Linked DNA regions of Homo sapiens. The protein of the gene in region 1 interacts with the protein of each later gene in a biochemical or structural test. Each region holds a gene or a part of one and is shown in the gene's direction. Other genes may lie near its edges.

Evidence for each region. Proteins that work in one complex are often made in the same cells at the same time.
Region 2: the proteins of INSIG1 (region 1) and FAF2 form a complex in vitro, tested with the Homo sapiens proteins (one study listed by BioGRID).

Annotation. Positions count from the first base shown.
Region 1 is NC_000007.14:155,300,847-155,307,941, forward strand, and holds part of INSIG1 (insulin-induced gene 1 protein), read left to right. Parts: intron 1-719; coding exon 720-844; coding exon of another isoform or gene 845-874; intron 875-1,404; coding exon 1,405-1,571; intron 1,572-1,900; coding exon 1,901-2,000; intron 2,001-2,978; coding exon of another isoform or gene 2,979-3,049; intron 3,050-7,095. UniProt on the Homo sapiens protein: Oxysterol-binding protein that mediates feedback control of cholesterol synthesis by controlling both endoplasmic reticulum to Golgi transport of SCAP and degradation of HMGCR.
Region 2 is NC_000005.10:176,444,489-176,451,384, forward strand, and holds the start of FAF2 (FAS-associated factor 2), read left to right. Parts: upstream 1-3,896; 5' UTR 3,897-3,919; coding exon 3,920-3,982; intron 3,983-6,896. UniProt on the Homo sapiens protein: Plays an important role in endoplasmic reticulum-associated degradation (ERAD) that mediates ubiquitin-dependent degradation of misfolded endoplasmic reticulum proteins.

The DNA of each region.
Region 1 (7,095 bases):
TCTCTTCTTGGTCTGGTGTTCTTTCCGCAGCTTGAGGCTTGACCATGCGGGAACCAGATGGAGAATAAGCGAAGCCTGTGTGGGGCTGTCTCGCCCCGTACTTGCCCATGTGCATGTGTGCACAGTAGGTGCTCAGTGCCTCGTACAGAACATGCTAGAACCCCCGAAAATCAACTCCAGGGCCACTCTAGGAGCATGTGACCCAGACTGTCAAAGTCACATCAGCAAATATGTATCTCATCACGTGCCCAGCCCCAGTACTGGGTGGTGGCAGGAGTGTCAGAGCTGTGATGTGACAGGGTGTGGACAGATGCTAACCTTTTTATTGTAAGATAGAAATCACACCGGATGAAAAGACAAGGTGAACTACATAGTCATTTAAGTTCTGTGTGCTTTAGGCAAATGTGGATATTAAATATAAGGTTACATATTGCTCATATTAATATGAATAATCCCTGCTTGATTCCTTCCTGTGTTTACTGAGACATGTTCAACTACACTAAATAATAGTGATTTTTAAAAAACTTTTCCAAACAGTACAATTTTGTGGGAGTGGTACTCAAAGAGAACAAGAATATAAAATCACTCTGAAGTTATAGCTGATAATTTTTTCTAGGAAAAGGACTGGTTTGAGTAATGTACTGTGTTACTAATGACCACGTTGAAATTCTGGAACTTGAATCTGCTGTATTCTAACATTGTCAACTTTTTTAAAACAGCTGTTGTTGGCCTACTGTACCCCTGTATCGACAGTCACCTCGGAGAACCCCACAAATTTAAGAGAGAATGGGCCAGTGTCATGCGCTGCATAGCAGTTTTTGTTGGCATTAACCACGCCAGTGCTGTATCCTTAATTTTCTGTGCTACGTCCAGAGTATCTTCTTAGGTTATATATTGAAGCGTTTTGTTTTGTTATATACTCAAATGACTCCATGTCATAATACAGACATGATGGTGGTACCTACCCATTTCAGATTACTAAAAAGAGAAAGAAGAATGGGGCTATCGATGACTTCATAGTAAAATATATTGTTTTATGGTCAAAATAAATATATATTTATTTATATTTTTATATATATTATATATATTTTTAAATATATATAATATATATAATAAATATATATTTATATAAATATATATAAGCACTTTATATATAGCTTTCAGCAAGTTTATTCTTATGGTTAAGTTTTTGACTCAGTGATGGCAGGGAGATTTCAGGTGATCTTAATGATTACTGTAACCTGTATCCAACAAATCCTTTCTTTAGCTTATTACACAGTTTTTATGGACAGTGAATTATCTGTGGTACAATAATAAAATACCCATGTTTTTAACCCTTGTGGTTTTACGTTTTTTTATCTTAATAAGAGTCAGCAAACTTTTCCTTAACTTTTATATCACCAGAAATTGGATTTTGCCAATAATGTCCAGCTGTCCTTGACTTTAGCAGCCCTATCTTTGGGCCTTTGGTGGACATTTGATCGTTCCAGAAGTGGCCTTGGGCTGGGGATCACCATAGCTTTTCTAGCTACGCTGATCACGCAGTTTCTCGTGTATAATGGTGTCTATCAGTAAGTGTGTGTTTTCAAATATTGGCTTTGGAAAGCTTACTTAACTTTCATTAAAACATCCACTAAGCTTAGATATTTTCATATTTTATTTGTTTTTTATATAGAATGATACAGATTTAGGCATGAAATTCTCAAAAATGCTGCTATCCATAACTTAATGTAACGCAAAGGAAAACCAAGTAGTAGCAGTTACAACCAAACAAATATGAACATTCGTAACATTGGATGGTTGATATGCGTTCTGCATATCCCCACTACAGAGAATCTGTGATGTAGAATTGAGCCAGGTGAAATTGACTGCTAAGGTACAGTTTCTTTTCTCGCTCCAGGTATACATCCCCAGATTTCCTCTATATTCGTTCTTGGCTCCCTTGTATATTTTTCTCAGGAGGCGTCACGGTGGGGAACATAGGACGACAGTTAGCTATGGTAAGTGAAATGATCATATTATCTTCTAAAACTTGCGTCTCTTTACCTTGATAGAATGACTTTACATGATACATTCAAATTTGCGTTCATATATTCTGGTTCAGACTTGAGTGACAACTACTGAGAAAAGCTTATATTTAAAAAAATAGGTAATGATACCCAGGTAATTCTTTGCTAAATTATAAAAATTCATAATATTTGATCTAGAAAAGGAACTAGAGCCCTCGCACTGCCCCTTTGAATTGCAGATGTGGTCAGTGTTCTGAATTCTTGAAATTTCTGTAGTAAGCAGTAGAGAAAGTGACTGGTGTGTGAGTGTCCCCTCCTCCTTCACCATCGGAAGCAGATCTGGATGACCTCATGCAGTGATACTTTGCTCCCTGAGCATCAGTCCACCAGTGTTTCTTTTCACAAAATCAGAGTGGATGCAGATGATGCTGGCCTCTTAGTCCACAGTCAAGCAAATCGAGCCTGAGGCTGCAGAGTCTGTCTCGGGCCAGGGCAGGGACTAATGTGGGTGGGCAAGGGGACAGCCTGGTTCAGGCAGGCAGCACCTTTCTGTGGGGCAGGTGGCCCTGGGCATGGAGAAGTGGTGATGAGAGCACCGCTGCACGTGGCCGGGTCACCATGTAGACGGACTGTCCTGCCTGAACATTGCATCTGTTCTCAGCTGCAGGAGAAAGCAGTGCTACCCCGCAGAGCTTCTCTCACAGCCCCCCTGAGGGAGACGGAAAGGTAGTGAACTCCAGGATGGCTTTAGCAGTTCTCATTAGTTAAAAATTGACATCTTAGCACTTCAATTTAAAAACATAGAGGTGGACTTTTAAATGTTATTTTGAGTTGACTTTGGCAGGCTGAAAGAAAGTAAATTAAAAAAAACAACAAAAACCTAGAGCTGTTGCTCTCGGAGATAAGCTCTGGGAAAACTTATCTTAGTACCTCATGCTATTTTTAAAACAGTACATTTATTTTTGCCAGCTGATACCCTTCTGTGAGGAGTTGAATTTGAAGACCACTTGGCTGTTTCACAAAACCAGAAGTAATTACAGGTAGAATTTGCAGTCTTCCACTGGTTACTGACTCTCTGCTGCCAAATTTCTCATGATGGAGAAGAAAGGACTTTGCTTGCCTTTTTTTTTTTTTTTTTTTTTTGAGACAGAGCTCTGGAGTGCAGTGGTGCCATCATAGCTCACTGTAACCTTGAGCTCCCGGACTCAAGCAATCCTCCCGCTTCAGCGTCCCGAGTAGCTGGGATTACAGGCACATGCCACCATACCCGGCTAACTTTTTTGCTTTTTGTGGAGATGTTATCTCCCTGCCTTGTCCAGGCCGGGCTCGAACTCGTGGGCTCAAGCCATCCTCCCACCTTGGCCTCCCAAAGCACTGGGATTATAGGCGTGAGCCTGGCCTTGCTTTTTTTAATATTAAAAATCTGGTCGGATGGTCCCACATGGAAATAGTATGTTGTTTTCATGCATTCGCCATCATCCCCGTTAATAGTCTTCAAAGGAGAGCTGGCAACTCCATCATTGCTTTCTTGCTTTGAGATTTTTGTTTCGGTACTCTTTGGGAGAGAATTCCTAAGAAGGTTTTTAGAATAAAATTGTCCTCAACCAGATTGACTAATTACACATTATAACTACAACTTGAATAACATTTAAAGAGTTGGTTATTTCTGTTTGATAGGTTGGTGCTGTTATATGTCAAGGCTTTTTAAATCGGTTTTAAGAAATAAGCATTATTTTGGTGGAGGTAGAAATTTCACAACATTCATAAGTTCTAAACATCTAGAAATGGTTGGAGGAAACATTTTCGTTTTGAAGATAGTTTCATTAAGTAATCCCTGCTGTGCTCCTTTGCTTACAGAAAAAAATGTTAAAGATAACTCAAAATAGGATAGTTGGTGTAATTATAATTCTCCTTACTTCAGCTTTCTCTTCATCCTTTTTATTCTTTAAGCTTGGGGGAAAATGTTTGGATGTTCTCGTATCTTAAAACTGGAGGAGAGAGGCTGGGCGCGGTGGCTCACGCCTTTAATCCCAGCACTTTGGGAGGCTGAGGCGGGCGGATCACGAGGTCAGGAGATCGAGACCATCCTGGCTAACACAGTGAAACCCCGTCTGTACTAAAAATACAAAAAAAAAAAAAAAATAGCCAGGCGTGGTGGTGGGCACCTGTAGTCCCAGCTGCTTGGGATGCTGAGGCAGGAGAATGGCGTGAACCCGGGAGGCAGAGCTTGCAATGAGCCGAGATTGTGCCACTGCATTCCAGCCTGGGTGACAGAGCAAGACTCTGTCTCAAAAAAAAAAAAAAAAACTGGAGAAGAGAGATCACCACCTTAATCCCCTTCCCTGCTGGGCTATCACATGAAACTGACCTCTGAGGTTCTAAGCCTAACCCGCCTACCACTGTTTTTATTCATAAATACTTAAATCCTTACCTCTGGATCCCAACTGTTACTCTTTTTTTCACTTCAAAATTTGCAAACTCATTTCTATCCATCAAACCCCGGAAATGGCCCAGGGGCTTCACAGTGCAGTCCCCTCCCTCCTGCTGCATCCGTTCCTCAGGCTGTGCCCCAGGTTGCATTCGTGGTGCGTGTTTTCTCCCAGGGCAGCCTTCCCCACATTCCACTCTTGTCATACTGTTGACTCACAAAATGGAAGTGGCTGAATGTTCCAGGGATAGTGTCTAAGAGCTATTGGTTTAAGGTTGAAACCTACACCAAGTAAGGCTTTGTGAAGGGAGATGACGAGAGTGAAGTTGTTGACAGTCTGAAGGTGAAGAGATTCCGAGGCTCAGTTCAGCACCGGGACCAGACCCGCCCAGATCCAGGGTAATTTGAGGTCTGTGTTTGGTGCTGATGGTTTTGCCCAGTGCACTCCACACCCTCTCCTTCTTAGCTGTCTCAGTTCTCTTCAGATGCCTTTGTTCTAACTTATGCTTCCCTCCCTTAAGAAGAAACATAGTTACTTGCAAGAATAACCATGCTCAAAAGTTACAAGTTGGCTTTGCTTCAAGTTATATGGTCTCCTAGCTTTTTCTATGTGGTATTTCCCCCCACACATGCCGTTGTCCTTTGTGTCCGAAAATACAGCAGAAACATTTGTTATCAGCCTGTTACGGTTTTTTTGTTTGCTTTTTGTTTGTTTTTATTTTTACTTTTTTTGAGACGGAGTCTTGCTTTGTCACCCAGACTAAAGTGCAGTGGCACAATCTTGGCTCACTGCATTTGAACCGTCTCCCAGGTTCAAATGATTATCCTGCCTCAGCCTCCCAAGTAGCTGGGATCACAGGCGCCCACCACCGCACCTGGCTAATTTTTCTGTTTTTAGTAGAGACGGGGTTTCGCCACGTTGGCCAGGCTGGTCTCGAACTCCTGACCTCAGGTGATCCACCTGCCTCTGCCTCCCAAAGTGCTGGGATTACAGGCATGAGCCACCGCGCCCGGCCCAGCCTGTATGTTTAAAAGAAAATGAGTCTGTAACCATCATTTATAGAACTTGTAGTTGTTGCTGTTTGTAGCTTCAAGTCCTTTCTCAAGAGTAAGCTGCAAACTGCCAACAGCAATCAAGCCTGTCCTGCTGCCACTGCCCGGCCCCACTGGGCCACCTGGAGGCAGAGTCCCGCCCACCTCAGTGTCAGCTTGGGATTTGATTTGCCGTTCCTGTTTTTGATTGACCCAATTCAGCTGCTAATGATAATAATACTATTATTGTTATTGAGGGTTTACATTTGTTGGGCTCTTACTGCTGCACAGGAGGCATTGTGCTGAGCGTTTCCATTGTTAGCCAGTTTAGTCCTCATAACACAAGTCTTTGAAGTAGAAACTATTATTAGCCCATTTTTAAAAGGGGAAATTGCAGCTTAGGAAGATTAAACAACTTGGCCAAGTGGGTGGCAGAGGTCGACGTGGCACCGTGCTTCTCATTAGCATACCACACTGCCCTTTCAACACATAGCTCGCACCTGCCTTCACCCTGGAAGCAGGTTTACAGCAGCCTGTGTTGGTGTCTGGGTTGCCATTTACAATGTGCCACCATTAGGCAACACTGCTGGAAGTCCCTGTGCCACGTGTCAGGTCCGCCCGGGCTGGCTGTCGTTCGTCTCTGGCGTCTTTGCCAGGCCTCACTGTGGCCTCTGTCGACCAGGGATTCTAAAAGTCCACTTCCCATTTATTTATCAGCACATTAGTGAACAGGGAGTCAAATGTGATGACCAGTTTTCTTTCCAGGTTGCTGCCAAGAGTTTGCTCTTTTGTTTTCTCACCGCAGTTTGTATAGAACCCTCCCAGTGTTCATATCTAAAAATTGGCAGTGCTTTCACATGATCAATTCCTAAAAGCATGTATGTTTCCTAGAAGGTCTTATTGTGTGTGTCCCCAGGGTAGTAACTGGCATACCTGGGTGACTCAACCCAGACTCATGACTTTCTTACCTGTCTGTTCAGATGAGAGGCTCTTGCTGTTTTCTGGATGAGTAATCTCCGTCATTGCTGAAGGTGAGGAGCTCAGCTCCTTCCTCTTAAAGTGAGTGGAGGGCAATTAAGTAACGTGGGAAGTCACGATTCTGAGGGAAAAAAATTCTGTATGGAGGTTTCTCTTTTGCCCTTTAGCAGAAGCTCCGTGGCCTCAGGAAGGTCATTTAATCTCTCTGGCTTTGCTTCTTCATCAGTGAAATACTGTTCTCCATTAAGAATTTACCCTGAGGTGCCTGGTCATAGTAGTAACTGTAGTGTCTACCTCTCAGAAGCTCTGTGAGGGTCAGATGAGGAAGAACATGTAGAAAGGATTTCCCAACTGTGAAGCTCTGTGTGAATTGAGGGCACACAGAGCTTCAGTATTACAAAGCATGACCTATTTCCAATGTCTGTTTCAACAAACTGCTGGTAAGGTGGGTTATAACACAGGCATCAGATACTAATAAAGGTTTGTGGCAGAAACCTCCCTTCAGATAAAGGTTCAATCCCTTAAATTGCAGTTAGAACTTTCAGGAACCTATCATACCCTAAGCATCACCATGCTTTGATAAAATTGGGTGTTTCCTTTATATAGATATTAATTTAGTTAAACTTTCACCAATATCTTACACTTATA
Region 2 (6,896 bases), on another chromosome or scaffold:
TTAGTTCACACCTTTTTCTTTTTTTCTTTTTGTGACGGAGTTTCACTCTTATCTTCCAAGCTGGAGTGCAATGGCGTGATCTCGACTCACTGCAACCGCCGCCTCCCAGGTTCAAGTGATTCTCCTGCCTCAGCCTCCCAAGTAGCTGGGATTACAGGTGCGGGCCACCATCCCTGGCTAATTTTTCTATTTTTCATAGAGACGGGGTTTTACCATGTTGTCCAGGCTGGTCTTGAACTCCTGACCTCAGATGATCCACCCACCTCGGCCTTCCAAAGGGCTGAGATGACAGGCATGAGCCACCGCGCCTGGCCAACACCATTTTTAAATGGGGGGATTTCACATGGAAATCCAAATGTGTAGAGTTTTTCTTTTCAAATTAGCATATTTTACTTTTTAAGGTGTACAATGTGATGTTTTTCAAATAAAATGTATCATGTAGGACATGATGTTTTGAAATATGTGTACTTTGTGGAATGGCTAAATCAAGCTGATGAACATATGCATCACCTCACATTTTTTTGGGGGGGTGAGAATGTCTGTGCTCTGAAAAAAAAATGGGCAGTTCCGGCAATACATGGAAGCCATCCTCCACAGCTAAAAGGCAGAAACCGTCTGTTTTTTGTTTTGTTTTGTTTTTGTTTGTTTTTTTGAGACAGGGTCTTGCTCTGTTACCCAGGCTGGAGTGCAGTCATGACTATGGCTCACTGCAACCTCTGCCTCCCGGGTTTAAGTGATCATCCCTGCCTCAGCATCCTAACTAGGTAGAACTGCAGATGCGTACTAACACACTCAGCTAACTTTTTTTTTTTTTTTGAGACAGAGTCTCGCTCTGTTGCCCAGGCTGGAGTGCAGTGGCACGATCTCGGCTCACCGCAACCTCTGCTTCCCAGGTTCAAGCGATTCTCCTGCCTCGGCCTGGGACTACAGGCATCTGCCACCATGCCTGGCTAATTTTTTTTTATTTTTAGTAGGGACAGGGTTTCACTGTGTTAGCCAGAATGGTCTTGATCTCCTGACCTCAAGATCTGCCCGCCTCAGCCTCCCAAAGTGCTAGGATTACAGGTGTGAGCCACCGTGCCCGGCCCACACTTGGCTAATTAAAAAAAAAAAAAAAAATTGGTAGAGGCAGTCTCACTATATTGCCTAGGCTGGTCCCCAACTCCTAGGCTCAAACAATCCTCCCACCTTGGCCTCCCAGAATGCTGGGATTACAGGCATGAACCACCGCGTCTGGCCAAAAACCACCTTTGGACAGGGAATGGACACTCCGGCTTTTCATATTTTGTCCCCACACGGAGACACATTAAAGTAGAGTTTTAAACAAATGAATTATTTCTTGTAACCTAATCTTTATTGAAAGAAGAAAACAGGGCCAGGTGCGATGGCTCACGTCTGTAATCCCAGCACTTTGGGAGGCCGAGGCGGGCGGATCCCGAGGTCAGGAGATCGTAGACCATCCTGGCTAAGACGGTGATACCCCATCTCTACTAAAAATACAAAAAAAAAATTAGCCGGGCATGGTGGCAGGCACCTGTAAGCCTCAGCTACTCAGGAGGCTGAGGCAGGAGAATGGCATGAACCCAGGAGGCAGAGCTTGCAGTGAGCCAAGATCAGGCCACTGCACTACAGCCTGGGCGATAGAGCAAGACTCCGTCTCAAAGAAAAGAAAGAAAGAAAGAAGAAAACAGAAAGATAGAAAAAGAAAGTGTAACTTTCTTTGAGGAAGTGAAGAAATATTCAATGGTGTTTCATATAACTACAAATTAGGTCTGTTGAAAGAATATGTTACCCAGGCTGGAATGCAGTGGTGTGATCACAGCATACAACAGCCTTGAACTCATGGCCTCAAGTGGTCCTCTCACCTCAGCCTCCCGAGTAGCTGGGACTACAGGCATTTGCCACCATGCCTGCTGGCAAGTATATATCTTAAGTGAGAATTACACAATTCCTGAGGACATCTGACTTTGCCAACCCTCATTTAGTTTATCTGAACCCAACGTTATTGGTGAGATTGAACAACACTGAGTTTCCTTTGAGCTTTGAGCTGCTGTAATAAATTCTCTATAGAGTAGCAGCTATCTGCTTCCGATTTTACCTTCGGGGGTTTTTACTTAATTGACATATTATTTATTTATTTATTTATTTTTGAGACGGAGTCTCACTCCGTCGCCCAGGCTGGAGTACAGTGGGGCAATCTCAGTTCACTGCAACCTCCGCCTCCCAGATTCAAGCGATTCTCCTGCCTCAGCCTCCCGAGTAGCTAGGACTACAGGCGTGCGCCACCAACCCTGGCTAATTTTTGTATTTTTAGTAGAGACAGGGTTTCGCCATGTTGGCCAGGCCAGTTTCGAACTCCTGACCTCAAGTGATCCGCCCGCCTCGGCCACCCAAAGCGCTGGGATTACAGGCGTGAGCCACAGAGCCCGGCCGACACCATTTTTAAACGGAAAGATTTCATATGCAGATCCAAATTTGCAGGGTTTTTGTTTTGTTTTGTTTTGTTTTTCCAATTAGCACTTTTTGGGGGTTGTGTTTTAGGGCGTACCATGTGCTGTTTTTCCAGGACGTCGTGGTTTGTGCAGACCTGGTAAGACCTGATAAGTCCTGAAAGAAGTAGCCAAAATTTCATGTACTCTTCACAGAACCAGCTCTCAAAGCCTTTTCTGTCTCACCGGATCAACCCTGCAAGGGGACGAGGGTGGGGCGCAGGCGGCCGAGAGCCTTGCTGAGAATCACACAGGTGGTCAGTGGAAAAGCGTGTACCAGACCCAGGCCTCTCTGGAAGGTGGGCAGAGGAGGCGTTCGGCGGGAGAGGTGGAAATGAAAACGGGAAATCTAAAGAGAGGTGGCGGACTAGAAGGGGCAAGGGACGTGCAGAGGAAGATAGAGATTGAGGGGTGGTGATAGGGTAGTGTAAGCAGCAGAAGGGAAGGGCAGGGGACTGCCTCGAGGAGAAGGGGCGGCGGCAGCACGTCAGGGGCTTTTGGGGAATCTCATTCAACAAATGGCAAAATGGAGCCCAAGTGGTTTGCCCAAGGATGTCCAGCAGTTGGCAAGGTGGCAACTAGAACCCGCGTCTCCTAATCCCGGTCCAGGGATCTTTCTTCGCCTGTCACAGAGACAAGGGGCCAGTGCAGCGCTAGTGCGGAGAGACAAGGCTCCAGGCACGGAAAAGCAGATGCCGGGCCGGGGTTCCAGCGCCGCAGTCACGGCGGTGGACGGCAAGCTGTGCGGACGACTGGGGGCGCCATGAATGGTCGAGGATCCGGGGAGCCGAGTCCAGATCTTCCTGCAAGTGACCCCGAAGCGGCAATGGAACGGTGGCCGAAGTCTGCCCACAGCTTCCGCTTCGAAGGCGGCGTCGGAAATGCCGCGCCAGTATCCAGAGCCCTTCGGAACCTCCCGAGAGATGGTCAGGAGCTTTTGGAAACTTTAGGTCAGGGGCCAGCGACCAAAAGGCTGGTATTTCGGAACGGCTGCGTCTCCCGAGAAACCTCCAAGAGTATCTGAGGTTGCCGGAAAATGGTTAGAGAGCAGCCGAAATCAGCCGAATGCCATTCGGGATGCTCCGGAGCTTCTCGAGGCACATTCGGGCCCTCTCGGCTCTGCAAGACTGCACTGGAATCTTAGGTCTCCTTTCGTCGCCTAATCTTAGCAGATCCTTTCGTCGCCTAAATGGTAAGAGCGACTTGTACCGACAGTCCCTCGGCAATTTCCGGAAGTGTTCGGGATAGGCCCGAGCGTGGCGCCCTCTGGCGGCGGCCAGAGGTGGCGGGGGGCGGGGGGAGGTTAGTGGGCCAGCGCGCGCAGACGCAGTTGCGCGCCGGCGGCCGTTCAGACCGGATGTGGTTGTGGCTGAGGTCAGTTCCGGCGGGTGACGGTGCGGACGGGTCAGGAGCGTAGAGGCGGCGGCAAAATGGCGGCGCCTGAGGAGCGGGATCTAACCCAGGAGCAGACAGAGAAGCTGCTGCAGTTTCAGGTAGCAGCGAGTACTCGGTGCAGCAGATGCCTCCGTGGGATGGGGAGTAGGCCCCTAGAGGAGTTCAGAACCCTCCTCAGATTGGGTTCAGATCCTTCTCAGACCAGCAGGCCGGCCCCCTCCCCCCCAGACTCCAACTGCCCTGATTCCCCCGGCCCCCAAGCCTCTGTTGGACCCTAGCCTTCCAGCCATCGCTGCGGGCAGACCCGCCTCGTCTGTGCCTCTGTGCCCTCAGCGTGTCAGCTTCCCTGGTTTGCCTTAGCGGCGTCAGTCCTCAGCCATCCTTCCCAGCCCGGTTATCGGTCGGACCCTCTCCGCCCAACGAGTCTATATCTGCCGGAGAAGCTTAGTCCCCACCGCGGAGTTGGCGTCATTTCGGGTCTCTGACAGGAAAACCTCCTGCCAGCATCCCATGCCATTTCCACATACACTCCCACAAACTGGGGCCTCTTGGATACCAGGTTTCGTGTTGGGGGTTCCGGTCGGGGAGGGGGCACCTACACACAGATCTGGTCCCCGCCCTAGAGGTGTGGGAGGACACCAAGTGAGGAAACAATGCAAGATGATAAGTGTCATCAGTGGTCTGTCGGGATTTATTACTTTTGGCTTATTCCTGGATTCCTGTGCTTAACTATGCTTGAGGAGGGTGGTAACTTGCAGAAATGTTATGTTAATACAAGATGTTGTATTAAGAACATTTGCCACTGATCACTTACCCCTGAGCTGGAGAATGGTTGGAGGATACCACTAGGGTGGGTAACCTTGGCACTTTGTTACCAGTTTCCTTATCTCTGAAAGGACTGTCTTAAAAATGTCTACCCCCAGGCCAGGAGCGGTGGCTCACGCCTGTAATCCCAGCACTTTGGGAGGCCAAGGCCAGCGAATCACGAGGTCAGGAGTTCGAGACCACTCTGGCCAATATGGTGAAACCCCGTCTCTACTAAAAATACAAATATTAGCCGGGCGTGGTGGTGCACGCCTGTGGTCCCAGCTACTCGGGAGGCTAAGGCAGGAGACTCGCTTGAACCCGGGAGGCGGAGGTTGCAGTGAGCCGAGATCGTGCCACTGCACTCCAGCCTGGGCAACAAGAGTGAAACTCCGTCTCAAAAAAAAAAAAATCTACCTCCTGAGGATGTTCGGGAGATCAAATGGACATATGGATGTTAGAAGGGCCTTGTAGACTGCAAAATGCCCCCAAATAGTATTTTCTGCTATTAATTTGACTTAGGATAGACCTAAAGTTATTGATACACTTATTTCCTTATATAAAATGTGTAAATATTCATTTATTCAACTATATGAAGAACCTTAGTGCGCAGCGCTGCTAGGTAGAATCCCACTTACTATTTCAGATGTAAGTACTTTGTAAACACTTAGCATACATAACCTCATTTAATACAGCAACCCTATGAGGTTCATACTGTTCTAGTCCCTGATTTACAGATGAAGGGTATCAGGACTAAGAAATAAAATGCTTAGGTTACACAGCTAGAAAATGATGGTGTCAGATTTAAAGCTATGTCCATCTTCCAGAACCCTTCCCAGGCTTCTGACTTCTGTCTTGTGCAACTTATATTTCAGTGTACAGTTGAGTGTGGAATGCAAATGCTGAGAAAATAAATATTTTTTTGGCGAGTTCTCACTTTTTTGCAATTTCCTTGAATAGACTTCACTATAATAAATTTTGAAGTGGTTATTTTTTCCCCTCTTAAATTGAGCAGTGTGTTGGAAGTGTATAAATGGAAAAATGCTGTCATAGATGTAATTGACATTTGATTGGAATTTTTGGTAGAGAAATTGAATTGATGACCCAGCAAATTATTATTAGAGAATGAGTTAAACAGACAACCAGCTTACACTTCCAGGTAGACCACCAATTTCAGAGTGTTGTTTAACTTTGGCAGACCATTTTACCCCTTAGAACTCTTCAGGGGTAAGCTAACATGTGGTTTAAGTGCAATGAAGTAATGTGAGTTATAAATTATGGTATATTTAGTCTCATACTGGAAGAGCATGAATATAAATCTATGATAGCATTTCTGAAGTAAAGTGCATAGGAACCTCCATTTTATCTTCTGTGGAGATCTTTTTTTTTTTTTTGAGACGGAGTTTCGCTCTTGTTGCCCAGGCTGGAGTGCAGTGGCGCGATCTCGGCTCACTGCAACCTCCGCCTTCCAGTTTCAAGCGATTCTCCTGCCTCAGCCTCTCGAGTAGCTGGGACTACAGGCACGCGCCACCACATCCAGCGAATTTTTTGTATTTTTAGTAGAGACGGGGTTTCACGATGTTGGCCAGGATGGTCTCGATTTCTTGACCTCGTGATCCGCCCTCCTCGGCTGGGATTACAGGCGTGAGCCGCCGCGCCCGGCCAAAACTGTGGAGATCTTTATTAGAAGAGAGGTGGGTAGCAGGTTCGAGCTGTATTAAGATTGCCTTATGAAATTGGATTTATTGAGGGAAATGCATCTTTCATTTTTCTATTCTATAAGCAATCGCTGGATCAGATTCATTATCCAGACTGCCATTAAACAAACAGTTGTTGAAACTTATTAGATGCCAAGCATTATACCAAGCAGCAGTTGATGTACATTAACTCTTTTTTTAAGAAAAATATTTTAGACCATGTGTGGTGGCTCATGCTTGTAATCCCAGCACTTTGGGAGGCCGAGGCAGGTGGATCACCTGAGATCAGGAGTTCGAGACCAGCCTGGCCAACATGGCAAAACCTCGTCTCTACTAAAAATACAAAAATTAGCCAGGCATGGTGGCATGTGCCTGTAATCCCAGCTACTAGGGGGGCTGAGGCAGGAGGCTCACTTGAACCCGGGAGGTGGAGGTTGCAGTGAGCCAAGATCGTGCCACTGCACTCCAGCCTGGGCAACAGAGCGGGACTCTGTCTCAAAAAAAAAATTTT